Linked DNA regions of Homo sapiens: regions 1 and 3 are each linked to region 2. The links come from fine-mapping of genetic effects on gene expression. A gene starts in region 2. Each other region holds a variant in brackets. All regions are shown on one strand. Distances are from middle to middle. Region 1 overlaps GCN1 (GCN1 activator of EIF2AK4). Region 2 holds the start of TRIAP1 (TP53 regulated inhibitor of apoptosis 1). Region 3 overlaps GCN1 (GCN1 activator of EIF2AK4).

The links.
Region 1: its variant is fine-mapped to the expression of TRIAP1 in whole blood (INTERVAL, PIP above 0.99).
Region 3: its variant is fine-mapped to the expression of TRIAP1 in whole blood (TOPMed, PIP above 0.99).

The regions. Positions count from the first base shown.
Region 1 is chr12:120,177,509-120,185,834 of GRCh38, reverse strand. It overlaps GCN1 (GCN1 activator of EIF2AK4), which reads left to right. Exons shown (of 58, transcript NM_006836.2): 3 at 948-1,011; 4 at 1,592-1,723; 5 at 2,158-2,266; 6 at 6,885-6,983; 7 at 7,076-7,210; 8 at 8,083-8,151; 9 at 8,280-8,326. Among named protein-coding and RNA genes, the nearest start is that of GCN1, 13 kb to the left of the region's middle. RefSeq lists an enhancer at 429-1,628. The variant G/A (reference allele first, on the strand shown) is at 3,360.
Region 2 is chr12:120,441,692-120,450,017 of GRCh38, reverse strand. It overlaps TRIAP1 (TP53 regulated inhibitor of apoptosis 1), which reads left to right and starts at 3,634. Exons shown (of 2, transcript NM_016399.3): 1 at 3,634-3,792; 2 at 5,063-6,054. The coding sequence starts at 3,646. The coding sequence ends at 5,146. GATC (glutamyl-tRNA amidotransferase subunit C) reads right to left here and starts at 3,574. Exons shown (of 4, transcript NM_176818.3): 1 at 3,457-3,574; 2 at 3,189-3,361. The coding sequence starts at 3,537. RefSeq lists enhancers at 2,759-3,604, 3,438-3,732, 3,330-3,879, 3,094-4,293, 3,605-4,452.
Region 3 is chr12:120,164,145-120,172,470 of GRCh38, reverse strand. GCN1 (GCN1 activator of EIF2AK4) reads left to right here. Exons shown (of 58, transcript NM_006836.2): 15 at 2,150-2,302; 16 at 4,171-4,263; 17 at 7,750-7,825; 18 at 7,976-8,135. Among named protein-coding and RNA genes, the nearest start is that of MIR4498, 13 kb to the right of the region's middle. RefSeq lists an enhancer at 5,490-5,539. The variant A/G (reference allele first, on the strand shown) is at 3,490.

The DNA of each region.
Region 1 (8,326 bases), 260 kb after region 2:
AAGGTCACAAGTTTGAGACCAGCATGGCCAACGTGGTGAAACCCTGTCTCTACTAAAAATACAAAAATTAACTGGGCGTGGTGGTGCGCACCTTTAGTCTCAGCTACTCATGTGGCTGAGGCAGGAGAATCACTTGAACCTGGGAGGCGGAGGTTGCGGTGAGCCGAGATCGCACTACTGCACTCCAGCCGGGGCGATAGAGTGAGACTCCGTCTGAAAAATAAAAGGCGGGGGGGCCTTAATAACACTGCCCACCTTACATGGATTAAATGAGTGAATGTGTATGAATGATCTAGAGCAGGGTCTGGCATCTTGTAAGCACTAAGAGCTAGGGTGTTATTAGTCCTCTCTTCTTCTTCATGTGTTCTGAATAGGTATTATGCCTTCTTAACCCTGCACTCTACATGTATCTCCCTCTCTTTCCATTTTTCCAGAGCCTACTAATCTGATAGGCCAAGCTTATGTGTCCTTCAGACTTTCAGAAACACTCCAGTTATAGGTGTTCTTCCCTTTTCTGGTCCCTCATAGTACTTCAGTGTTGCACTGTTTTTTAAACCGTTTATTAGAATGTATGTGAAGAAAGGTACGCCTCCTAATGGAACAGCTCACTGAATCATCACATGTTAAACACCAGTATAACCAGCACCCAGATCAAGAAGTAGAACCATTCCAGCACTCCTGAACCTCCTCTTGATGGCATGTGAGGTTTCGAGGCCACTTTTATTTTCTTAGTTTCGTTCATTTAGCAAATGTCTACCCAAAGCTTTTCTGTACCAGGCATTTTCCTAGAGTCCTGTTTTGTTGTTGCTTTTTCCTCTTGGGGAGGAAGGTCTTAAATATATGGGGAGTGTCCAGTGGGCTGAGATCATGTCTGGGCAGAATACCTGACTCCAGCGGCTTACCAAGTGATTTTTATTGACCGCTGTCTGTGTAATCTCTGGTTTCAGATCTTCCAGAGGGAGCAGTGAAGGGGCTCTGCAAATTGTTCTGCTTGACTCTGCATCGATATAGGTGAGTCCCAGCCAAAGGCCCCATATGTGGAGCACTTTGTACAGAGAGGGGATTTAGAGTAGTGGTTAGAGCCCAGATTAGAGCCAGACTGCCTGGTGCCAAATCTGGGCTATGTCACATCCTAGCCATTAGATCCTGGGCAAGTTACTTAACCTCTCTGTGCCTCAGTTTCCTTGTCTGCAGAATGGGGATGGTGCCATTCTCTATCTCATGGGTGGTTGTTAGTAAGCGTGAGGTGCCTGGAACAGTTGCCTGCTGTGCCATAGTGGTCAATGTGTTTATGCTGCCATTTAGTCATGTGTGTTAAATCGTCTGGCCTACTTTGAGACCCTTATAACTGCTCCATAAATGTAGGTGCTGCCCTTACACACTCAATGGCTTATTTGCCCTTATGAGATACTTTTAGAACTCTAGGAGGAGGTGAGTTTATCTAGTTATTTCCTAATCCCTTCTCTGTTATCCACTGGAATATGGTGTGATCAGTTTCTCCTGAGAAAGACCAGTGTATGGCCTGAGCAGCCTTGCCCCTGCCTCTGCCTGAGGTCTGCATGTTCACCCTTTCCTTTGCCTCTCCCCCTAGAGATGCAGCCTCCCGCAGGGCCTTGCAGGCAGCCATCCAGCAGTTGGCTGAGGCCCAGCCAGAAGCCACTGCTAAGAACCTTCTACACTCTCTGCAGTCTTCTGGTATAGGCTCCAAAGCAGGTGTTCCCAGGTAAGAGGTAAAAGTTGTGGCCCCCTGAGAATTGGTACAGTCCTGCTCAGGAGAAGCTGATGCAGTTGACTGTGCACCAGAGGGAGGAGCCAGGATAGCAAGCTTAGTGGAGAAAACCACTTTCCCGAGGAGCAGGGTTGGGAAACAGTGGAAGCAAGGCCATTTTGAGGGGAACCAGTTGCCCACCAGGCCCCTAATGGTGGAAGCCATCTGTTTGTTTTTATAGTTGTCAGTGCCAAGAGATGGGAGTTTGGCCACTGAAGCCTGGACTTCTTGTCCTGAATTGCCACAGATGGTTTGTGGGGAACTTGTTTCAAGTTCTGTTCCATGAGGTGAAGGGAGGGTCCTGCATTACCAGGCGGGGCCTTAGGGACAGTGTTCGTCCTCAAGGTGGAGGCTGCTGCTCTGAACTCATCCCCAACTCTGCTCTGCAGTAAGAGCAGTGGCTCTGCCGCCTTGCTGGCCTTGACCTGGACCTGCCTCCTGGTGCGCATTGTCTTTCCATCGAGAGCCAAGCGACAAGGAGACATCTGGAACAAACTGGTAGGTTCCCTGTGTCTCTGAAGTAGCAAGGGTCAGCTTTCTGCCAGGAGTTAGAGCATGTTTCAGCACCTTCTTGGTGCCAAGTGCTTTTCTGGGTGCTGGGTGACCAGACACTCTGAGTTGTCCCGAGGTGTGTGGCTTTGGTGGATGGCCATGAGTGCAGCATAATCACATTGTTTGGTGTATTAGACATTTTGGAGCTTCTCTGTCAGGCATGGTGCTAGGCACTAGAAATGCAGTGATGCACAACAGAAATGAGGCCCCTGATTTCATGGCATGTGTGGAAGCCGTGACAGGCCAGAGTTGGGAAGACAGCCAAAAATCAAGTAGACTAGAAAATATCATAGTGTAAATCCTCTTGGTGTTTTTCTGGCTGATCATTCCATTCCCTGTGTTTGATTTCAGTGTTGAACTGGTGAATGGAATGGATTTTTTGTCTTGGTTTTGGTTCTTAAATTCCCTCTTTCCATTCTCTACCTGCTCCTTCCATATTCTCTTCTTTTTCTTTCCCCATGTCTGCTCACCAGGTTGGGAGGTGAGCAGAGCAGACATGTGCCTGGGTAGGCTTAGTGTAGGTCATGAGGAGTGGTTTTTTAGTGTAGGTCATGAGGAGTAGTTTTTTTTTTTTTTTTTTGAGACGGAGTCTTGCTCTGTTGCTCAGGCTGGAGTGCAGTGGTGTTGGCTCACTGCAACCTCTGCCTCCTGGGTTCAAGCGTTTCTCTTGCCTCAGCCTCCCGAGTGGCTGGGATTACAGGTGCCTGCCACCACACCTGGCTAATTCTTTTGTATTTTTAGTGGAGACAGGGTTTTTCCATGGTGGCCAGGCTGGCCTTGAGCTCCTGACCTCAGATGATCCGCCTGCCTTGGCCTCCCAAAGTGTTGGGATTATAGGTGTGAGCCACTTTGCCAGGCCTTGGATCTGATTCTTGTCCATGAGACTTGGCTGAGTCACTTAACTTCTGAGCCCATTTCCTCATTTGCAAAGTGGGAAAGAAAATACTACTCACCCTGTCCACCTCAAAGAGTTGTCGCAAAGCCAGGTTTCGTTGAGGGTTGAGATGACTGTGGAAACTGGAGAGTCCCAGGCAGGTAG[G/A]TGCCAGTGATGACCGGCCTTAGGAAACACAAGTACCGCTCCATGAAGCAGCCTGCTGGTTAGATAGAGGGCTGCATCCCTGGGAGCTTATCCAGCGCACCTCTGGGGACAAACATGGAATGGCTGTCAGTATAATTGATTGATGATGGATTAGAATGCTGAAACCTTGAGGGTCAAGGATTACGTATTGTGAGCTGGGACTCTCTTGGATTTGCTTCAGGGAATGGGTGTCATTGTTACCAAAAGCCTCCTTGTAAGAAGGGGCAAGCTCATTGGCTTATCTGCACTGAGTGGTTTTTTTTGTTTTTTTTTTTTTGTTTTCTTTGAGAGACAGAGTGTAATTCTGTCACTCAGGTTGGAATGCAGTGGCGCAATCTCGGCTCACTGCAACCTCTGCCTCCCAGGCTCAAGCAATTCTCAACCCTCAGCTTCCTGAGTATAACTGGGACTATATGTGCATGCCACCACACCTGGCTAATTTTTGTATTTTTAGTAGAGATGGGGTTTCACCATGTTGGCCAGGCTAGTCTCAAACTCCTGACCTCAGGTGATCCGTCTGTCTCAGCCTCCCAAAGTGCAGGGATTACAGGTATGAGCCATTGTGCCCAGCCTACTTTTTTTTTTTTTTTTTTTTTTGAGACGGAGTTTTACTCTTGTTGCATAGGCTGGAGTGCAATGGCGCGATCTCGGCTCACCGCAACCTCTGCCTCCTGGATTCAAGCGATTCTCCTGCCTCAGCCTCCCAAGTGGCTGGGATTACAGGCATGTGCCACCATGCCCGACTAGTTTTGTATTTTTACTAGAGACGGGGTTTCTCTATGTTGGTCAGGCTGGTCTCGAACTCCTGACCTCAGGTGATCCGCCCGCCTCGGCCTCCCAAAGTGCTGGGATTACAGGCATGAGCCACTGCACCTGGTCGTGCCCAGCCTACTTTTAAAAAAATGTATTAAAAAATTTTTTTATACACACACCATGATTCTGCAGACTTCTTTTTTTTTTTTTTTTTTTTTGAGACAAAGATCTTGCTCTGTCACCCAGGCTGGAGCACAGTGGCATGATCTCAGCTCACTGCAGCCTTGACCTCCTGGGCTCAAGCGATCCTTCTGTCACAGCCTCCTGAGTAGCTGGGACTACAGGCATGCTGGTGTATGCCTGGCTGATTTTTGTATTTTTTTAGAGATGGGGTTTTCTTTTGTTGCCCGGGTTGGTCTCGAACTCCTGGGCTCAAGGGAACCACCTGCTGCGGTCTTCCAAAGTGCTGGGTTTATAGGTGTGAGTCACCACGCCCAGCCAGTAATCCTTTCTATACTATGCTATATATAGGGAGTCCTCTGTTGCTTACGGTTTTTTATTGTTACTAACAGTTCTGCAAAGAATAACCTTGTACATATGCCATTTTGTATACATGCAAATGGAATTTATCAGCATTGCTTTCCACAAGCATATCTGCTTGCTTGCTTTTTCTTTTTCTTTTTTTTTTTTTTGAGACGGAGTCTCGCTCTGTCGCCTAGGCTGGAGTGCAGTGAGGCGCAATCTCGGCTCAGTGCAAGCTCCGCCTCACGGGTTCACGCCATTCTCCTGCCTCAGCCTCCCGAGTAGCTGGGACTACAGGCGCCTGCCACCATGCCCAGCTAATTTTTTTTGTATTTTTAGTAGAGACAGGGTTTCACCGTGTTAGCCAGGATGGTCTCGATCTCCTGACCTCGTGATCCGCCCGCCTCAGCCTCCCAAAGTGCTGGGATTACAGGCGTGAGCCACCGCGCCCGGCCACAAGCATATCTGTTTTCTGAGGGTGGCAGTTCACACGACTCACTAGTGACCTTGGGCATTTATGGCACATAAAGTCTCTGAGATTTTTGTTTGTTTTTTTTTGAGACAGAGTCTTTCTCTGTCACCAGGCTGGAGTGCAGTGGCGCTATCTCGTCTCACTGCAAACTCCACCTCCTGGGTTCAAGCGATTTTCCTCCTGAGTAGCTGGGACTACAGGCGCCTGCCACCACACCCGGCTAATTTTTGTATTTTTAGTAGCGACAGGGTTTCACCATGTTGGCCAGGATGGTCTCGATCTCTTGACCTTGTGATCCGCCTGCCTCAGCCTCCCAAAGTGTTGGGATTACAGGCGTGAACCATTGCACCTGGCCTTTATTTTTTGAGATGGAGTTTCGCTCTCGTTGCCCAGGCTGGAGTACAAAGGCGTGATCTCGGCTCACCGCAACCTCTGCCTCCTGGGTTCAAGCGATTCTCCTGCGTTCAAGCAATTCTCCTGCCTCAGCCTCCCGAGTAGCTTGGTTACAGGCATGCGCCACCACACCCAGCTAATTTTGTATTTTTAGTAGAGATGAGGTTTCTCCATGTTGGTCAGACTGGTCTTGAACTCCCGACCTCAGGTGATCTGCCTGCCTCGGCCTCCCAAAGTGCTGGGATTACAGGTGTGAGCCACTAGGCCTGGCAGCCTCTGAGATTTTTTTAGTCAAGGACCTATTATGTATGTCAATCTGGGTTGGACGGTGTGAGCTCCATGCAGTTCGAATCCCCATATCAAGATGCACTTCTGTATTCACAGTGCTCAGCATAGAGCCTGCCATGCAGTGGTCAGTAAGTATTTGTGGAATTAATGAAGGACAGGTCAAGGCAGATAAGAAGTAAATGAAACAGGACCCTTAATTCTTTACCTGCATGGCACTTAAACCTCACTGAAATTGTATGTTCATTTGTGTATTTATTTGTTTAATATCTCTTTTTTCCTCTGAATTCTAAGGTACATGAAAGCAGGGACCGGCTGGGCGCAGTGGCTCACGCCTGTAATCCCAGCACTTTGGGAGGCCGAGGCGGGCGGATCATGAGGTCAGGAGATCGAGACCATCCTGGCTAACATGGTGAAACCCCGTCTCTACTAAAAATACAAAAAATTAGGTGGGCATGGTGGTGGACACCTGTAGTCCTAGCTACTCGGGAGGCTGAGGCAGGAGAATGGTGTGAACCCGTGAGGCGGAGCTTGCAGTGAGCTGAGATCGCACCACTGCACTCCAGCCTGGGCGACAGAGCGAGACTCTGTCTCAAAAAAAAAAAAAAAAAAAATTAGCTGGGCATGGTGGCACGCACCTGTAGTCCCAGCTACTTGGGAGGCTGAGGCGGGAGAATCACTTGAACCCGGGAGGTGGAGGTTGCAGTGAGCCGAGATTGTGCCACTGCACTCCAGCCTGGCGACAGAGCGAGACTCCGTCTTAAAAAAAAAAAGCAGGGACCATGTCTGTCTTCCTCCCCTTGTGCCTTCATTGTCTGATTCATAATAGGTGATCACCAAATATTTATTAAACGAACACTAGTGGGAACAGTGTCGTTAAAGGACAGAACTAAATGTGTGGGGTGGAGGGAAGAGGAGCTGGCTGGAGTTGAGTGGGAGAGGCTGAGTGGAGATGAAGCCAGGATTTGGAGGGTCTGATGGAGGTCTTTACAGGCTATGAGAGCCATGGGACCCTCAGTCTCATGTCCCACCTTGACCTGAGTCTTCCCTGGTCCTGGCAGGTGGAAGTGCAGTGCCTGCTCTTGCTGGAGGTGCTGGGTGGCTCCCACAAGCACGCCGTGGATGGTGCTGTGAAGAAACTCACGAAGCTGTGGAAAGAGGTGACAGGACTGCAGGGGCTGGTGGGCATTGCTTCTTCCATGCCACTCCCCCACTGCCATCTTAAACACCTGCCTGGCACTTTCCTCTTCAGAACCCCGGGCTGGTGGAACAGTACTTGTCAGCCATTCTCAGCCTAGAGCCCAACCAGAACTATGCTGGCATGCTGGGGCTGCTGGTGCAGTTCTGCACGAGTCACAAGGAGATGGACGTGGTCAGTCAGCACAAGGCAAGTGCCAAGGCAGAGTGACTGTGGGTTTGCTATGTTGGGGATGTTGGGAGCTCGCTGGAGGGAAGGAATGGGAACCTGCTTTGCCCTGGTGACCCTAGCTGTTGACCTTATCTGAAACTTGTTGGTTTTCTCATGTGAGACTCTGGCCTTTTGCCATGATACATGAACTTCTAGGAGCTGGAAAGTTTCCCTTCTGTTTCTGGCTTGGGTGATAGTTTGCTTGTTCATGCAGTCACTTATTCATCCCAATTTAGTGGCTGCCATGTTCTAGGCACTGTGCTCGGTGTTGGGGGTACACCAGCGAGTAAGGGAGCTATGACCCCTGCCCCCATGGAACTGAGTCTGAGAAACTGACATTAAACAGATAGTCTAGCTAATTATAACTAGTATGTGCTACAAAGGGAAAGTGTGAGAAGTCGTGAGACTCCACAACGGAAGGACCTGATTTAGGCTGTGGGTCAGAGAACACATCACTCTAAAGAAGGAACTTTGAGAGTGAAGAGGAATTAGCAAGGTCAAGAGGTGAGGCAGAGCATTTTGGGCAGAGGAAGCAGCCTGTGGGCAGGAACAGAGAGGAGGCGAGCGGGGTTGGAGTGGCAGGAATGGGTTAGAGTGAGACGCAGCCAGCTGAGTGGTGGGCAGGACCTTATAAGCCATACGAAGGACTTTGGACTTTATCCCGGGGGCCATGGAAAGCTGTGGAAGGGTTTTAAGTGGGGTTGCGTGATCAGTGGGACCTCTATGCTTAACACTGAAATTTGGGGCATTGATTTGTATTTTTTGGAGGCACTCTCACAAGAGGGACCCCTTAGGCCAGTGATGAGATACTTGAGAATGTCAGGATCTAACCAGAGCTTTGTGTTCTCTAGAGCGCCCTACTGGACTTTTACATGAAGAACATCCTGATGAGCAAAGTCAAGCCTCCGAAGTACCTGTTGGTGAGCGAGAGGTGGACGTTACTCACCTGGACAACTGATCCCATTTTCAATTCTGGGATGCTGAACTCTTTTTTGCTTCTTGGTCCGTTCCCATGAGGGCTAGGTGCCTTATTCCTTTTTCTTTGTAGGATAGCTGTGCCCCTCTGCTCCGATACCTGTCCCACTCAGAATTTAA
Region 2 (8,326 bases):
GGCCAAGGTGGGCAGATCACCTGAGGTCGGGAGTTTGAGACCAGCCTGACCAACATGGAGAAACCCTGTCTCTACTAAAAATACAAAATTAGCTGGGCGTGGTGGCGTGCACCTGTAATCCCAGCTACTTGGGAGGCTGAGGCAGGAGAATCGCTTGAACCTGGGAGGCAGAGGTTGTGGTGAGCTGAGATCGCGCCATTGCACTCCAGCCTGGGCAACGTGAGCAAAACTCTGTCTCTAAAAAAAAAAAAATTCATTAAACATTTACTGTGGCCGGGCACGGCAGCTCAAGGCTGTATTCCCAGCACTTTGGGAGGCTGAGGCAGGCAGATCACCTGAGGTCAGGAGTTCAAGACGAGCCTTGCCAACATGGTGAAACCCCTCTCTACTAAAAATACAAAAATTAACCAGGCATGGTGGTGCATGCCTGTAATCCCGGGTGCTCGGGAAGCTGAGGCAAGAGAATCTCAAACCCAGGAGGCAGAGGTTGCAGTGAGCCGAGATCACGCCACTGCCTCCAGCGTGGGCAACAGAGTGAGACTCCATCTCAAAAAAACAAAACAAAACAAAACAAAACACATTTACTGAATACTCAGTGCCAACCACTGAGAACATGATAAGGAAAAACAGACATGCTGTGGAAGGTGGGTGAGCAGGAGAGGGGCAGAGACTCAACACATCCCTTAAATAGATGTATAAACGCATGTATAAATCAGCCCTTTTGGATATCACGAGAGCCACAGGTAGAGAACCTAAGTATAGCCAGGCACAGTGGCTCACGCCTGTAATCAGCACCTTTGGGAGGCTGAGGTGGGCAGATCACGAGGTCAGGAGATCGAGACCATCTTGGCTACGGTGAAACCTCATCTCTACTAAAAATACAAAAAATTAGCCAGGCGTGGTAGTGGGCACTTGTAGACCCAGCTACTTGGGAGGCTGAGGCAGGAGAATGGCATGAACCCAGGAGGCGGAACTTGCAGTGAGCCAAGATCACGCCACTGCACTCCAGCCTCAGCGACAGAGCGAGACTCTTGTCTCAATTAAAAAAAAAAAAAAAGAACCTAAGTATAAAAGAATGAAGACTTGTGGCTCACGCCTATAATCCCAGCACTTTGGGAGGCCGAGGCGGGTGGACTGTGAGGTCATGAGTTCGAGACCAGCCTGGCCAACATGGTGAAACCCCGTCTCTATTAAAAATACAAAAATTAGCTGGGCGTGGTGGCGGGCGCCTGTAGTCCCAGCTACTCGGGAGGCTGAGGCAAGAGAATCACTTGAAACCGGAAGGTGGAGGTTGCAGTGAGCTGAGATTGCACCACTGTACTCCAGCCTGGGTGGAAGAGTGAAACTCCGTCTCAAAAAAAAAAAAAAAAAAAAAGGAATGGACTTTTTTGGCCAGTGCAGTGACTCATACCTGTAATCCCAGCACTTTGGGAGGCGAAGATGGGCGGATCACTTGAGGCCAGGGGTTCGAGACCAGCCTGGTCAACATGGTGAAACCCTGTCTCTACTAAAAATGCAAAAACTAGCTGAGTGTGGTGGCGGGTGCCTGTAATCCCAGCTACTCCGGAGGCTGAGGCACAAAAATCACTTGAACCTGGAGGGTGGAGGTTGCAGTGAGCCAAGATCATGCCACTGCACTCCAGCCTGGGTGATGGGGCAGGACTCCACCTCAAAAAAAAAAAAAAACTTTCTTGAGGAAGTGGGAGGCTGAGGCAGGAGGATTGCTTGAGACCAGGAGTTTGAGACCATATGGGGCAACATGGCAAGACCCCGTTTCTACAAAAATTTTAAGTATTAGCCAGGTGTGGTGGTGCACACCTATAGTCCCAGCTATTTGGGAGGCTGAGGCAGGAGGATCTCTTGAGTCTAGAAGTTTGCGACCAGCCTGGGCAACATAGTGAGACCCCGTCCCAAAGGAAAAAGAAAATTGCAAAGTAGAGAAGACATTTGAAAGAATCAAACACGGCCAGGTGCTGTGGCTCATGCCTGTAATCCCAGTACTTTAGGAGGCTGAGATGGGTGGATCACCTTTGCTCAGGAGTCCAGACAAGCCTGGGGAACATGGCAAAATCCCGTCTCTATCAAAAATACAAAAAATTAGCCAGGCCAAGTGGCACGCGCCTGTGGTCCTGTACTTGGGAGGCTGAGATGGGAGGCTCTCTTGAGTCTGGGAGGTGGACATTACAATGAGCTGAGATCATGCCACTGCACTCTAACCTGGGTGATAGAGTGAGACTCCATCTCAAAAACAAATAAAATAAAAATTCAAGGCAGGAATAAAACAGTAACTACATAATGAGCTCACATTTTAATAAAAGAGATATAACAAATGAACAAAAGTCCATTAAAATGTTAGGGAAAAAACCCAATAGGATGAGTTACTAACTAGAAGGGGAGAAGGGATTTGGAGTGGTTAGGAGAGCCCTTTCTGAGAAGATAAGCTGAGACCTGTGCCAAGAGGGAGGCAGCCATGCAAATACTGAGAGGAAGGAAAAAAACGAAGGGCCAGTGCAGAGATCTAGAGAGGAAAAGAACTTGTCTTGCTGGAGAAGCAGTCAAGGTAGCCAAGGAGAGTACTGAGAAGAGTACGTTGGAGTGAGTAGGTAGGGACTCTATGGAGTAGGGCCTTAAAGGCGATGATTAGGCCAGGCGCGGTGGCTCACACCTGTAATCCCAGCACTTTGGGAGGCCGAGGCGGGTGGATCACGGTCAGGAGTTCAAGACCAACCTGGCCAAGATGGTGAAACCACGTCTCTACTAAAAATACAAAAAAAATAAGCCGGGCCTGGTGGCAGTCGCCTGTAATCCCAGCTACTCGGGAGGCTGAGGCAGAGAATTGCTTGAACACGGGAGGCGGAGGTTGCAGTGAGCCGAGATCGAGCCACTGCACTCCAGCCTAGGCAACACAGCGAGACTCCGTCTCAAAAAAAAAAAAACAAAACAAACAAACAAAAAAAAAAACAAAGGCAGTGATTAGCAGTTCGGGTTTTGTTTCCACTTACACTAGCGAGAGCATCAGTAATGAACAAGGGGAAGAGTGAAGCCACTGACTCGCGAGGTGACTGTGGGCAAGTTCCTGAATCTTGCTAACACTCTTTAACCCCCTGGAAAACTGTTCGCTAATCGTCACATTAAACGGCTGCGAACGGGCCACGGTCAAGGCTTCGGGGCTGCAGCCGCGAGTTTACCTGTCCTCCAGGACCGATTCCATGGGCTCCACCCCGTCTGTGTCCACGGCGCGTAGCCGGTCGGCGAAGGCGATAGCTTTCTCCAGTCGCGCCACTGCCTCGCGGCTGCCGAAGTCCACAAGCGCTAGACGCTCCAGGTGCTCGATCACCGCAGCCGTGATCCGGCCACTGCCCTGGAGGAGGGATGAGGCGGGGAGTGTGGGTCACCGGCGCTCCGAAGTGCCTCCCGGCTTGCTCCGCCACCCGCCTAGATGGCCCTGGCCTTTACCTGAGGATCCGCCTTGGAGGTGAAGCCCTGGCGCCCGCCCAGAGGGGCCCGAAGGCCCAGCCACACCAACCGCGACCACATTTCTTCCTTCCTTGGCCCCCGCAGTGCGCCCGCGCGTAACGCCGAGCGACGCGCCTGAGAGTGATGACATCAGAGTGCGCCGTCGTCGCCGCCGCCACCACTGTCGCCATGAACAGTGTGGGGGAGGCATGCACGGACATGAAGCGCGAGTACGACCAGTGCTTCAATCGCTGGTTCGCCGAGAAATTTCTCAAGGGGGACAGCTCCGGGGACCCGTGCACCGACCTCTTCAAGCGCTACCAGCAGTGTGTTCAGGTGAGCCCTCCCGCCTCTGTTCCCAGGCCCTGCATTCTCGGCGCTGTGTCCCACCACACTCATCGTATTTTACGGGGATTGGGACTGGACTGGAAGGGTGGAGAAAAGTCGCAGTGAGGCCAGTGGCAGGAGCTCGCTCCCCTACCATCACCACCGAGGCCACTTGGGTGTCTCTCCGAATGACAAATATTGGGGCAGTGCTTTTCAAGAAGCACAGTCACATCCTTTGGTTCATTTGGTGTTCACCCTAAACTCGCAAGGTGGGCATAGTTACTCATATTTTATACATAAAAAACTAACACCCAGAAATAGGAAGTGATTAATCCGAGTTCACTAGCATCAGGTTTCCTTGGTTCTTTCGCAGGTGGTGCACTTTTCCACTATTACTGCTGGGGTCTGGGCGGGATTATACTTCAGAATTCAGACTGGAGGGTCACATTTTTTTGTTGTTATAAACCCTTCGTTAGCCTGTTTCTCTCTCTTGACCAGTCCCCGCAACTGCAGCCAGGAAATGTTTATTCTGGCCCAATGGATGTGGAACTGCTTTGAATTGTTAAGAACAGCACCGGGCAAAGCACTTCCAATAAGTTAACCCAACACATCCTCACAGCAATTCCCCGAGGTAGTTGCTGTCTTCATCCCATTTACAGTTAGTCACATAGCCAGTAAGTCCTGGAACCCAGATTTGAACCTAAGTCTTTCACTAACACAAAGTGATGATTATTTTTCAAATTTCACTTAATTTTAACGGTTCCCTCACAACTCCTTTTCCAGTCTCCCTCAGGTCTTACACTTGATTTATTCATTATGGTACTTCTGGTTTTTATTTATTTTTGAGGCAGAGTCTCACTCTGTCTCCCAGCCTGGAGTGCAATGGCACAATCTCAGCTCACTGCAACCTCCGCCTCCCAGGTTCAAGCTATTCTCATGCCTCAGCCACCCGAGTAGCTGGGCTTACAGGCATGCGCCACCATGCCCAGCTAATTTTTGTATTTTTAGTATAAACAGGGTCTCGCCATGTTGGCCAGGTTGGTCTCTAACTTCTGGCCTCAAGTGATCCACCTGCCTTGGTCTCCCAAAATGCTGCGATTATAGGCGTGAGCCACCACACCTGACCGGTACTTGTTTTTTAAAAAGTATGTGGTTTGAATCATGGTTATAAGTCTTTATAATCAGCTTGATTTTACTTTTGTACTGTCATATTTTATTTACAAAGCTTGCAACTTAAGCTTCATGTAGGTCTTTATAATGTGTTTTCTCCTCCTACCAGAAAGCAATAAAGGAGAAAGAGATTCCTATTGAAGGACTGGAGTTCATGGGCCATGGCAAAGAAAAGCCTGAAAATTCTTCTTGACCTTGACAGTCACCTTGAAGGATTTCGCAAGTCCAGAAATTGAGGACTCTGGATTTTTGTCAACTAACTCTGTGAACATAGCCATCAGATTTGATGAGGAACTTAGGAGAGAGGAGTTTTATTTCCTCCTTCGATGTTTTCCTCTCAGTTGTAAAAGATGAACTCTTTGAGATGATTTCTCACCTGCTGTGGTATCTTGCAGGAACTGTGTGCTAAAATTGAACAATTTTTTTGAGATTATGGTTGCAATACTTGGCGTGGAATCAGCTTTACATAAATATACCTTGTATGCAAACGATGATAAACTAGTCAGGATGAGCAGAGCTGCCTGACCTCTTGATTTCTGCTGCAAAAGACATATACACTGTACTGGGGTCACTATTTATGAAAGCAATTGGTTAGGACCTCTTTTTTTCCTCTCAGGGAACTAATGCTCTGAAAAGGGATCTGGGCACAACAGTTTCAGTGAGTGCTTTTGAGCACACTTTTATTTTTATATAGTAACTAATGGTTAAGATTGATGGTGGCCTGGATTAGCAAAGAGGAAGACAGCTTTTAACACAGTTCCCTGCCTTCACAAGAGGTGTCAGATTAAGATGTGAAAGCTGCAAGAATGTTGCAGTGAACACCATTTCAGAGCTCTCAGTGTGCAGTTCAGGAATTAAGATACTTGGAATAGCTGTGGAGGAAGAACCTAAATTGCAAAGATCTGCTATTGCCAGCTCTCAACCCAAGTCAGTGAATTGTCAACCTGCATATCCTAAAAATGTCAAAATGCTGCATCTGGTTAAATGTCGGGGTAGGGGGGAAGCTGAAGGTGCTCGCTTCATTTGCCTTGTTTACTCATCCTGCCCTGTAATGTCTGTAATCCTGAAGATGGAATAAATTGTAACATTTAGTTTCTATCATTATTTGCCTCTGGAACTCAGTGCATTTTATGGAACTATTACCCTGTTACCCTACAAACCTCATATATACAGTGGGGAGAGTTTTGTGTTTTGTAACTTAAAGGTGAAGAAAAAGTGACTTGTCTTAAGCTAGGTGGTACAGTATGGCAATCAGAAACCTCACATTTTTTTTTTTTGAGACAGTCTGGTTCTGTCACCCAGGCTGGAGTGCAGTGGCGCAATCTTGTCTTACTGCAAACTCCACCTCCTGGGTTCCAATGATTCTCCTGCCTCAGTCTCCCAAGTAGCTGGGATTACAGGCATGCATCACCATGCCCAGCTAGTTTTTGTATTTTTAGTAGAGATGGGGTTTCACCATGTTGGCTGGTCTTGAACTCTTGACCTCCCGAAGTGCTGGGATTACAGGCATGAGCCACCGCACCCAGCCAAAACCTCACTGATTTCTAAAATTTCCACAATAGGCTATACAAATACACTACGGTACCAAAAAAGGATCAGGAGAGCACTTACTTACCTCAGAATGTCACGTAATCCCCACAATTAATTGAGTAATTTGGTTTTATTAGATACCCAAAGTAGTATGAAACTTGAATTACAGGCCGGGTATGGTGGCTCATGCCTGTAGTCTTAACACTTTGGGAAGCTGGGATGGGCGGATCACTTGAGCTCAGGAATTTGAGACCAGCCTGGGCAACATAGCGAAACCCTGTCTCTACAAAAAAATTAGCTGGGTATGGTGGTGTGTGCCTGTAGTCCCAGCTACTCTAAAGGCTGAGGTGGGAGAATTACCTGAGCCTGAGAGGTGGAGACTGCAGTGAGCTGTGATTGTACCACTGCACTCCAGGCTGGGTGACACAGCAAGACCCTGTCTGAAAAATAAACCAAGAAACTTGATTTATAGAAGGCCCTAATTCTATTGTCTTTTCTCCACTTTACCAATTGCTACATCATATTTAATGTGACTTGTCCTTAATGTCATTTCAAAACATTCTTCATTTATATTTTATGACTGGCTAGGGTCCATTATCCAAGGATTATAAAAGATGTTTGGAACCCAGCCAAGGGAGGCCAGGCAGCAAGCTGAAGTATAATGCATCTGTCCTAAACTCAGACTGGCCACAACCAAAACAGCTCTATAGGGACTCAGAAGTGCAGGCTGTAATATTACAAAATGGCAAAGACAATGAGATTCTCTATTCCGTTAATTATTACAAAATGGCAAAGACAATGAGATTCTCTATTCCGTACTGTATATGCCTTACTTTTGCGTTACCAGTTTAATGTAATATAATATGAAATACCTTGTTGCCTCTTGAACCTTACCACGAAAGTGTTCCTTTGAGCCTTAAGAATAAACCAGCTGGCTGGGCGCGGTGGCTCACGCCAGTAATCCCAGCACTTTGGGAGACTGAGGTGGGCAGATCACCTGAGGTTGGGAGTTTGAGACTAGCCTGACCAACATGGAGAAACCCCATCTCTACTTAAAATACAAAAAATTAGCCAGGTGTGGTGGCACATGCCTGTAATCACAGCTACTCAGGAGGGTGAGGCAGGAGAATTGCTTGAACCTGGGAGGTGGAGGTTGTGGTGAGCCAAGATCATGCCATTGCACTCCAGCCTGGGCAACAAAAGCGAAACTCTGTCTCAAAAAATAAAATAAAATAAAATAAACCAGCTCTGGCCAGGCACAGTGGCTCAGACCTGTAATCCTAGCACTTTGGGAGGCTGAGGTGGGCAGATCACCTGAGGTTAGGAGTTCAAGACCAGCCTGGCCAACATGTGAAACCTTGTCTCTACTAAAAATACAAAAAAGTAGCCGGGCGTAGTGGCGGGCGCCTGTAGTCCCAGCTACTTGGGAGGCTGAGGCAGGAGAATGGCGTGAACCCGGGAGGTGGAGCTTGCAGTGAGCCGAGGTCCCGCCACTGCACTCCAGCCTGGGCGACAGAGCGAGACTCCATCTCAAAAAAAAAAAAAAAAAAAAAAAAATAATAATAATAATAATAATAATAATTGCCCTCTCAGAGTGGTTTTGTAACTACTACTACTACCATTTACTATCCATTAAAGCAGGATAGTTTTAATTCCACAGAAAAGCCAATAAGCAGAAATGTGTCACGCTCCCTTTGTTTCTCTTAAGATTTCTGACCCTACCAGCCCTGAAGGAGATTACCTCAAAGTAAGAACTTGACACATTCGAGGCCAGGCACGGTGGCTCACGCCTGTAATCCCAGCACTTTGGGAGGCTGAGGCGGGTGGATCACGAGGTCAGGAG
Region 3 (8,326 bases), 280 kb after region 2:
CTTCTGTGTGAAATGTCTTGTCTGATGAACTTTGTACTCACATATTTCTTTTAATGATAAGGGAAGAAGAATCTGACCATAAGAGATTTTTGCACTGATTTGAAAGCAATATATCTTTTTCTGAAATATGTCTCCCAGCTCAGAATCATAGATCATCTTTGTGCAGTGGTTTGTGAGGTTTATTCAAACCACAGGTAGTGCTGATTGAAGTCATAGATTTTCCATGGGTAGAAATGTACGCTCAATACATTTTCAGCTGCCTTAGGGATATAGTGAACTCACATCCATGACTTAAAAACAGTCTATGAGGCAGGCGAGCTGGCTCACGCCTGTAATCCCAACACTTTGGGAGGCTGAGGTGGGAGGATTGCTTGAGCCCAGGAGTTTGAGACCAGCCTGGGCAACAAAGTGAGACCCCCATCTCTACAAAAAAATTAAAAAAATAGCTGGGCATGGTGGTACATGCCTGTGGTCCCAGCTACACAGGTGGCTGAGGCAGCGGGATTGCTTGAGCCCAGGAGTTCAAGATCAGGCAGGGAAACATAGCAAGACTCTGTCTCTACCAAAAATTATATAAAAAGTCTATGTACTATATATATCAGTTTGCATTATTGCTGCATTGAATGACCATCAGTTGTAGGTGGGACTTTGAATTGTAGATGGCAAAAACTTGGTTTTACCTAGTCTCTTCAGCTTGAGCTAGTTCTGCTCGTTGCATTTATTTTTAATTTATTTTTTAAAAAAGGAATGCAGAGTGCCAGAACTCAATGCTCATTGCTTTTAAAATAAACATAATATAAAATAAACCTTTTAAAAACAAAACGAAAATAAACCTCTGTAATAAAGATTTCTTGGATTCAAGTATAAAACATTATCTGGGAAACTGCTTTCATTGTGAAATGTTCTGATGTACCCATTTAGTAGCTATGGAAACATGGAACAACAAACCAAGGTGTTGGGGTAGGGGGGAAGAAAACATGTGCTTGAGCTATAGTTTTTTTTTTGAGATGGAGTTTCTCTCTGTCACCCAGGCTGTAGTGTAGTGGTGCGATCTCAGCTCACTGAAACCTCCGCCTCCTGGGTTTAAGCGATTCTCCAACCTCAGCCTCCTGAGTAGCTGGGATTACAGATGCCCACCACCATGCCTGGCTAATTTTTGTATTTTTTAATAGAGACAGGGTTTTGCCATGTTGGCCAGGCTGGTCTTGAACTCCTGACCTCGGGTGATCTGCTCGCCTCAGCCTCCCAGAGTGTTGGGATTATAGGCATGAGCCACCGTGCCCAGCCAAACTATAGTTTTAACTGGTTTCTCTTTTTTTTTTTTTTTTTGGAGATGGGGTCTCGTTCTGTCACCCAGGCTGGAGTGCAATGGCACAATCTCGGCTCACTGCAACCTCCGCCTCCTGGGTTCAAGCGATTCTCCTGCTGCAGCCTCCTGAGTAGCTGGGATTACAGGCGTGCACCACCCCACCCGGCTAAGACAGGGTTTCACCATATTGGTCAGGCTGGTCTGGAATTCCTGACCTCATGATCCCCCCCGCCTCAGCCTGCCAAAGTGCTGGGATTACAGGCATGAGCCACTGTGCTTGGCTTCCTTTTTTTTTTAAAAGAGTTTAGTTCAGAGGTCAGCAGATTTGGACCCAAATTTAGAATTTGGGTCCGAAGGTCATCTGTATGGGGGAAGAGTACCAGATGGGAATTGACAGGATTGAGGGTGGCTCTGACTTGCCTCAACTAGCCGTGTGACCTTGAGCAACACACCTAATGTCTCTGCTTATCCATCAATTGAATAACTGGACCACGCCCAGCTAATTTTGTATTTTTAATAGAGACGGGGTTTCTCCATGTTGGTCAGGCTGATCTCGAACTCCCAGCCTCAGGTGATCCACCCGCCTCGGCCTCCCAAAGTGCTGGGATTACAGACGTGAGCTACCGCACCTGGCCATAAGGATTATCTTTCTCCCTCTAATTTTGTGGCTGTAGAGTTTGATTTAAGTTTTGATTTCACTTCACTTCTTTTTGAGATATTTGAAAAATTAACTGAAGGGTTTTAGTCGTCTGGTTCACAGCTGGTTAGATAAATCCTTTCTCAGTCCTGTCATTTCCAAGGATCAGGATGTCCTTTAAGGTGCTTGTCCTCTCTCCACAGGTGACACGCTGTTGCAGGCCCTGGACTTACTGCCCTTGCTCATCCAGACAGTGGAGAAGGCAGCCTCCCAAAGCACTCAGGTTCCCACCATCACTGAAGGGGTTGCCGCAGCCTTGTTGCTCTTAAAGTTGTCAGTGGCTGACTCACAGGCTGGTATGAGTCCAGAGGTGTCTAGGATGGTAGAGACAGGGGCCTCTGACAAGAGTCCTTGGGAGGTGTGTCTTGATGTTCAGGATTAGCTTGGTCCTGACCACACTGGATCAGCCACAGGTTTGCTTGTCATCTGCAGGATGAACCTCATGGTTGCATGGGCAGTGGGAATGCAGTCAGGGGACTGTGTCACTGTCCTCCTTCATTCTGTTGCTCCAGTGCTACACAGGCTTGTAGATGATACCTAGATGGACCAGGGTTTAGTATTGGGACTGTTTGTTTCAGTTGGTTATACATTCATACAGTACAAAATTCAAAAGGATATAACATGAGAAGCTTCCCCTTAGCCCTGTCTTTTCCCGTAGCCGTTAAGTTTCCCTCTGTAAACGGTGTTACCAATTTTGCACTTTGGGAGGCCGAGGCAGGCGGATCACGAAGTCAAGATTTCGAGACCATTCTGGCCAACATGGTGAAACCCCGTCTTTACTAAAAGTACAAAAATTAGCTGGGTGTGGTGGCGCATGCCTGTAATCTCAGCTACTCGGGAGGCTGAGGCAGGAGAATCGCTTGAACCCAGGAGGCGTAGGTTGCAGTGAGCTGGGATTGCTCCACTGCACTCCAGCCTGGGTGGCACAGTGAGACTTTGTCTAAGAAAGAAAAAACAGTATTACCAATTTTATGTCCAGACATAGTGTGTTATGTAATTGAACATGCTGGGGAACATACGCTATATGCCATATTACTTATAATATATAATATATATACTATATATAATATATCTTCGAAATGATTCCAAATCAGTACATCAGAAAGAGCTTTCTCATTATTTTTTGTGGCTACATCGTATTTCAGGCTTTCTTTTCTTTTTTTTTTTTCTTTTTTTTTTTTTTTTTTTGAGACGGAGTTTCGCTCTGTCGCCCAGGCTGGAGTGCAGTGGCGCGATCTCGACTCACTGCAAGCTCCGCCTCCTGCCTCAGCCTTCCGAGTGGCTGGGACTACAGGCGCTACGCCGCCACGCGCGGCTAATTTTTTATATTTTTAGTAGAGACAGGGTTTCATCGTGTTAGCCAGGATGGTCTCAATCTCCTCACCTTGTGATCCACCCACCTCAGCCTCCCAATGTGCTGGGATTACAGGCGTGAGCCACTGCGCCCGGCCAGGCTTTCTTTATTTCATCTCCCAATCTCTGC[A/G]CTGGGACACACCTGAACTTAACTCCTTTGGTTAGGAATGGAGCTCAGCTCTCCTCATGTAATATCGTGTGCTCACTGTGGCCATGCAAGGCACTGGGCTACCTGGGGGAATGCTAAGATGAACATGACCTTCTTCAGCAAATTTCAGGGTGCTTACTTCACAGTAGGCGCGAGGAAATACAGAAATATATCCGTAGCTTAAGACAAAATGCGGCATTAGAGCAGTTTTGAAGGAGAGATTGCTTTTAGTTGGGGGGGTGGGTATTGGGAAGGGCTTCATGGAGGAAGCATTTGAACTGGTACCCTGAAGCCTCTGAAGGATTTCATTATCCTGAAGGGATGGCCCAGTGTGAGTCCAAACAGCCCCAGTCAGGGAAGGGCAGGGAAAGCCAGAGTCTGTAAACCTCAGGTATTCCAGCTTGGCGCCTGGGGTGGATGGGAATTCCGGATGAGAAGCAGTTCACCTAGGATCCTGTAGGCAGCAGAGAGCCACCGAAGAGTTTCGTACAGGAGGTGATACCAGAAGGACTGAGGTCAGTTCCCCAAATGGAAGAGCACTGAGCCTCCTGCTGCAGAGGAGGGTTTGTCAGCAAAGCCCACCCCAGCAGCTTCAGGATGGAGTAGATCAGCTCTGGGGGATGTGGTGAGCTGCGTCGTGGGGTAACCTTTTGTTTCTTGCAGAGGCCAAACTGAGCAGTTTCTGGCAGTTGATTGTGGATGAGAAAAAGCAGGTTTTCACTTCTGAGAAATTCCTGGTCATGGCTTCAGAGGATGGTAAGTTACTCCATGCTTAGTTGAACTCGGGATTGAGGCAAAGTCTCTTTGGAAAATCTTCAGAGAGGACCCTTTCTTGACCAACCAGTCAGGTCTGCAAAAACCTGGGCCAGAGTGATCTGGCCAACAGCTTAGCTGTTGTGGGAATAAATTCATTCCTGTAGGGAACATAAGGTTAGGGAAATGGGACTTGGGAGATGTGTGGAGACAGAGCAGTAATGGCTGTGGAGCTACGACATGAGCTGTAATTATAGCTGATTGGGTAATTGGTGCTGTCTCGGAGGTTTTCTTGTGTTAAGGCAGCTGAGAAGCTCTTGTGGAGTCTGGCAGGCTCTACTCCCCCACCAAGAGACACAAAAACTACTGGTTTCTATCCTGGCAGAAAAGGAACAGTTGAATTTTAAATATGTGTTTAATATTCTACGTTGCCTTAGGAGTGTCTGCCACTAATTGGTGATTTGAAGAGTCGTTTGACTCATAAATCGCAACATCCCATTAATGAGCTACAACTGTTAGTCATTTCCTGGTTTTAGAAAAATTTTTAGCTAAATTTTGAAAAGGAAATAGACTAATGTAATTCAAAAATAGATACAAGAGGGTCTACATTGAAAATTATACCCCTGCTTTGATCTCTGGCTACCCAGTTCCTCGGCTATAGATAACCAATTTTATTAGCTTCTTCTGTAGCCTTGATATTTTATATATATGCAAGTAAATACCTGTATATGTTTGTTCTGTACCTTTTTTACACAAATGGTAGTGTGCCTGCCGTATGTACTGTGCTTTCTAGACCTGGAAATGAGTCCATATCAGTATATAATGAACTTCATCATTCTTTTTTTTTTTTTTTTTTTTGAGATGGAGTTTCGTTCTTATTGCTCAGGCTGGAGTGCAGTGGCATGATCTCAGCCCACCGCAACCTCTCCCCCTGGGTTCAAGCGGTTCTCTTGCCTCAGCCTCCTGAGTAGCTGGGATTACAGGCATGTGCCACTACCACCAGGCTAATTTTGTTTTTGTTTTTTTTTTTCTTAGTAGAGATGGGGTTTCTCCATGTTGGTCAGGCTGGTCTCGAACTCCCGACCTCAGGTGATCCACCTGCCTCGGCCTCCCAAAGTGCTGGGATTACAGGCATGAGCCACCATGCCCGGCCTCTTTTTATAACTCCATAGTAATTTGTTGTTGTTGTTGTTGTTGAGACAGGATCTCACTCTGTTGCCCAGGCTGGAGTGCAGTGACACAGTCATGGCTCACTGCAGCCTCGACCTCCCTGGTCTCAGGTGGTCCTCCCACCTCAGCTTCCTGAGTAGCTGGGACTACAGGTGCACACCACCACATCTGGCTAATTTTTGTATTTTTTTTTAAGAGACGGGGGTTTCACCATGTTGCCCAGGCTGACCTTGAACTCCTGGGCTTAAGCAATTCTCCTGCCTCAGCCTCCAAAAGTGTTGGTGTTACAGACATGAGCCATCGTGCCTGGCCTTAGTAATTTTTTTTTTTTTTTTTTGAGACAGAGTCTCGCTCTGTCGCCCAGGCTGGAGTGCAGTGGCGCGATCTCAGCTCACTGCAAGCTCCGCCTCCCGGGTTCACGCCATTCTCCTGCCTCAGCCTCCTGAGTAGCTGGGACTACAGGTGCATGCCGCCACGCCTGGCTAATTTTTTGTATTTTTAGAAGAGATGGGGTTTCACAGTGTTAGCCAGGCTGGTCTTGGTCTCCTGACCTCATGATCCGCCCACCTTGGCCTCCCAAAGTGCTGGGATTACATGCGTGAGCCACCGGATCAGGCATTTTTTTTTTTTTTTTTTTTTGAGACAGTCTCACTCTGTTGCCCAGGCTGGAGTGCAGTGGTGCAATCTCTGCTCATTGCAACCTCCACCTCCCGGGTTCAAGCAATTCTCCTGCCTCAGCCTCTTTGAGTAGCTGGGACTACAGGTGCACACCACCACACCTGGCTAATTTTTGTATTTTTAGTACAGACGGGGTTTTACTATGTTGGCCAGGCTGGTCTCGAACTCCTGACTTCAGGTGACCTGCCTGCTTTGGCCTCCCAGAGTGCTGGGATTACAGGCGTGAGCCACTGTGCCTGGCCGTAATTTTTAATTATTAAAAAAAAATAGGCTGGGGCCGGACACGGTGGCTCACGCCTGTAATCCCAGCACTTTGGGAGGCCGAGGCGGGCAGATCATGAGGTCGAGATCGAGACTATCCTGGCCAACATGGTGAAACCCTGTCTCTAATAAAAATACAAAAATAAGCTGGGCGTGGTAGCAGGTGCCTGTAATCCCAGCTACTCGGGAGGCTGAGGCAGGAGAATCTCTTGAACCCAAGAGGCGGAGGTTGCAGTAAGCCGAGATTGCACCATTGTATTCCAGCCTGGGTGACAGAGCAAGACTCCGTCTCAAAACAACAACAACAACAACGAAAACAAAATACATAGGCCTGGCATGGTGGCTCATGCCTGTAATCCTAGCACCTTGAGAGGCTGAAGTGGACTGATCACTTGAGGTCAGGAGTTCAGAATTATCCTGGCCAACATGGTGAAACCTCGTCTCTACTAAAAATAGAAAAAAAAAAATTAGCCAGGCTTGCTGGTGGGCTTCTGTAATCCCAGCTACTCAGGAGGCTGAGGCAGGAGAATTAGTTGAACCTGGGAGGCGGAGGGTGTAGTGAGCCAAGACTGCACCACTGCACTGTAGCCTGGGCAACATAGCGAGACTCTGTCTCAAAAAAAGTAAAAATAGGCTAGGTGCGGTGGCTCACGCCTGTAATCCTAGCACTTTGGGAGACCGAGGCAGGTGGATCACCTGTGGTCAGGAGTTCAAGTCCAACCTGGCCAACCTGGTGAAACCCCGTCTCTACTAAAAATACAAAATTTGGCCTGGTGCAGTGGCTCACGCCTGTAATCCCAACACTTAGGGAGGCTGAGGCAGGTGGATCACGAGGCCAGGAGATCGAGACCATCCTGGCTAACATGGTGAAACCCAGTCTCTACTAAAAAATATAAAAAAATTAGCGGGTGCCTGTCGTCCCAGCTACTCGAGAGGCCGAGGCAGGAGAATGGTGTGAACCTGGGAGGCGGAGCTTGCAGTAAGCCCTGAGATCGTGCCACTGCACTCCAGCCTGGGCGACAGAGCGTGACTGTCTCTCAAAAAAAAAAATATATATATATATATGTGTGTGTGTGTGTGTGTGTGTGTGTGTGTGTGTATATATGTGTATATATGTATATGTATATATATGTGTATATATGTGTATATGTGTGTATATTATATATAAAATAAATAAAAATAGTATATACTTTACTGATTCCAAAATACATGTGTGCATAAGCAAAAAAAAAAAAACAAGCTGTAATTTCACTTCGAGTGATAATCACATTTATATTTTGGTGTTAATTTTCAGTTCATTCCAGTTATTTCTGGGTATTGGTATGTATGTGTACACTTAACTATTTTAAAAACACTTCCATTCCTTTTCTTCCCTCCAAGCCCTGTGTACTGTGTTGCATCTGACAGAGAGACTTTTCCTTGACCACCCGCATAGACTCACTGGCAACAAAGTTCAGTACGTGAGGCTGGCTTACCTTTTCTTTTGGGCCAAATGAGGCAAAGGCTGGCAGGAACCCGAGAAAGGGTGTGTGGCAGGTGGAAGGGTTGGCTGTGGAAAGCCCTGCTCTTGGCCTTCCCCCAGACCTGTCTGTCCCTGTGCTTGCAGGCAGTACCACCGGGCTCTGGTGGCGGTGCTCCTGAGCCGCACCTGGCACGTCCGCAGGCAGGCTCAGCAGACAGTTCGGAAGCTGCTGTCCTCTCTTGGGGGCTTTAAGCTGGCGCACGGACTCTTGGAGGAGCTGAAGACTGTCCTCAGTTCTCACAAGGTGAGGGCATCTGGGCTCTAGAACTGGGGCTCTTGGATCCACTTAGCTGCCCCTGCTTACGATGTGGGGTTTTGGCTGGGCCACTCCCTGGGTGTTCTTTCTTAATCTGTGTGATGCCAGCATCTTCTGCTCTGCCGTCAAGCTCCAGTAACATCTTTCATAGGATTCCTTTTCCTTTTCAGAGACTTTTT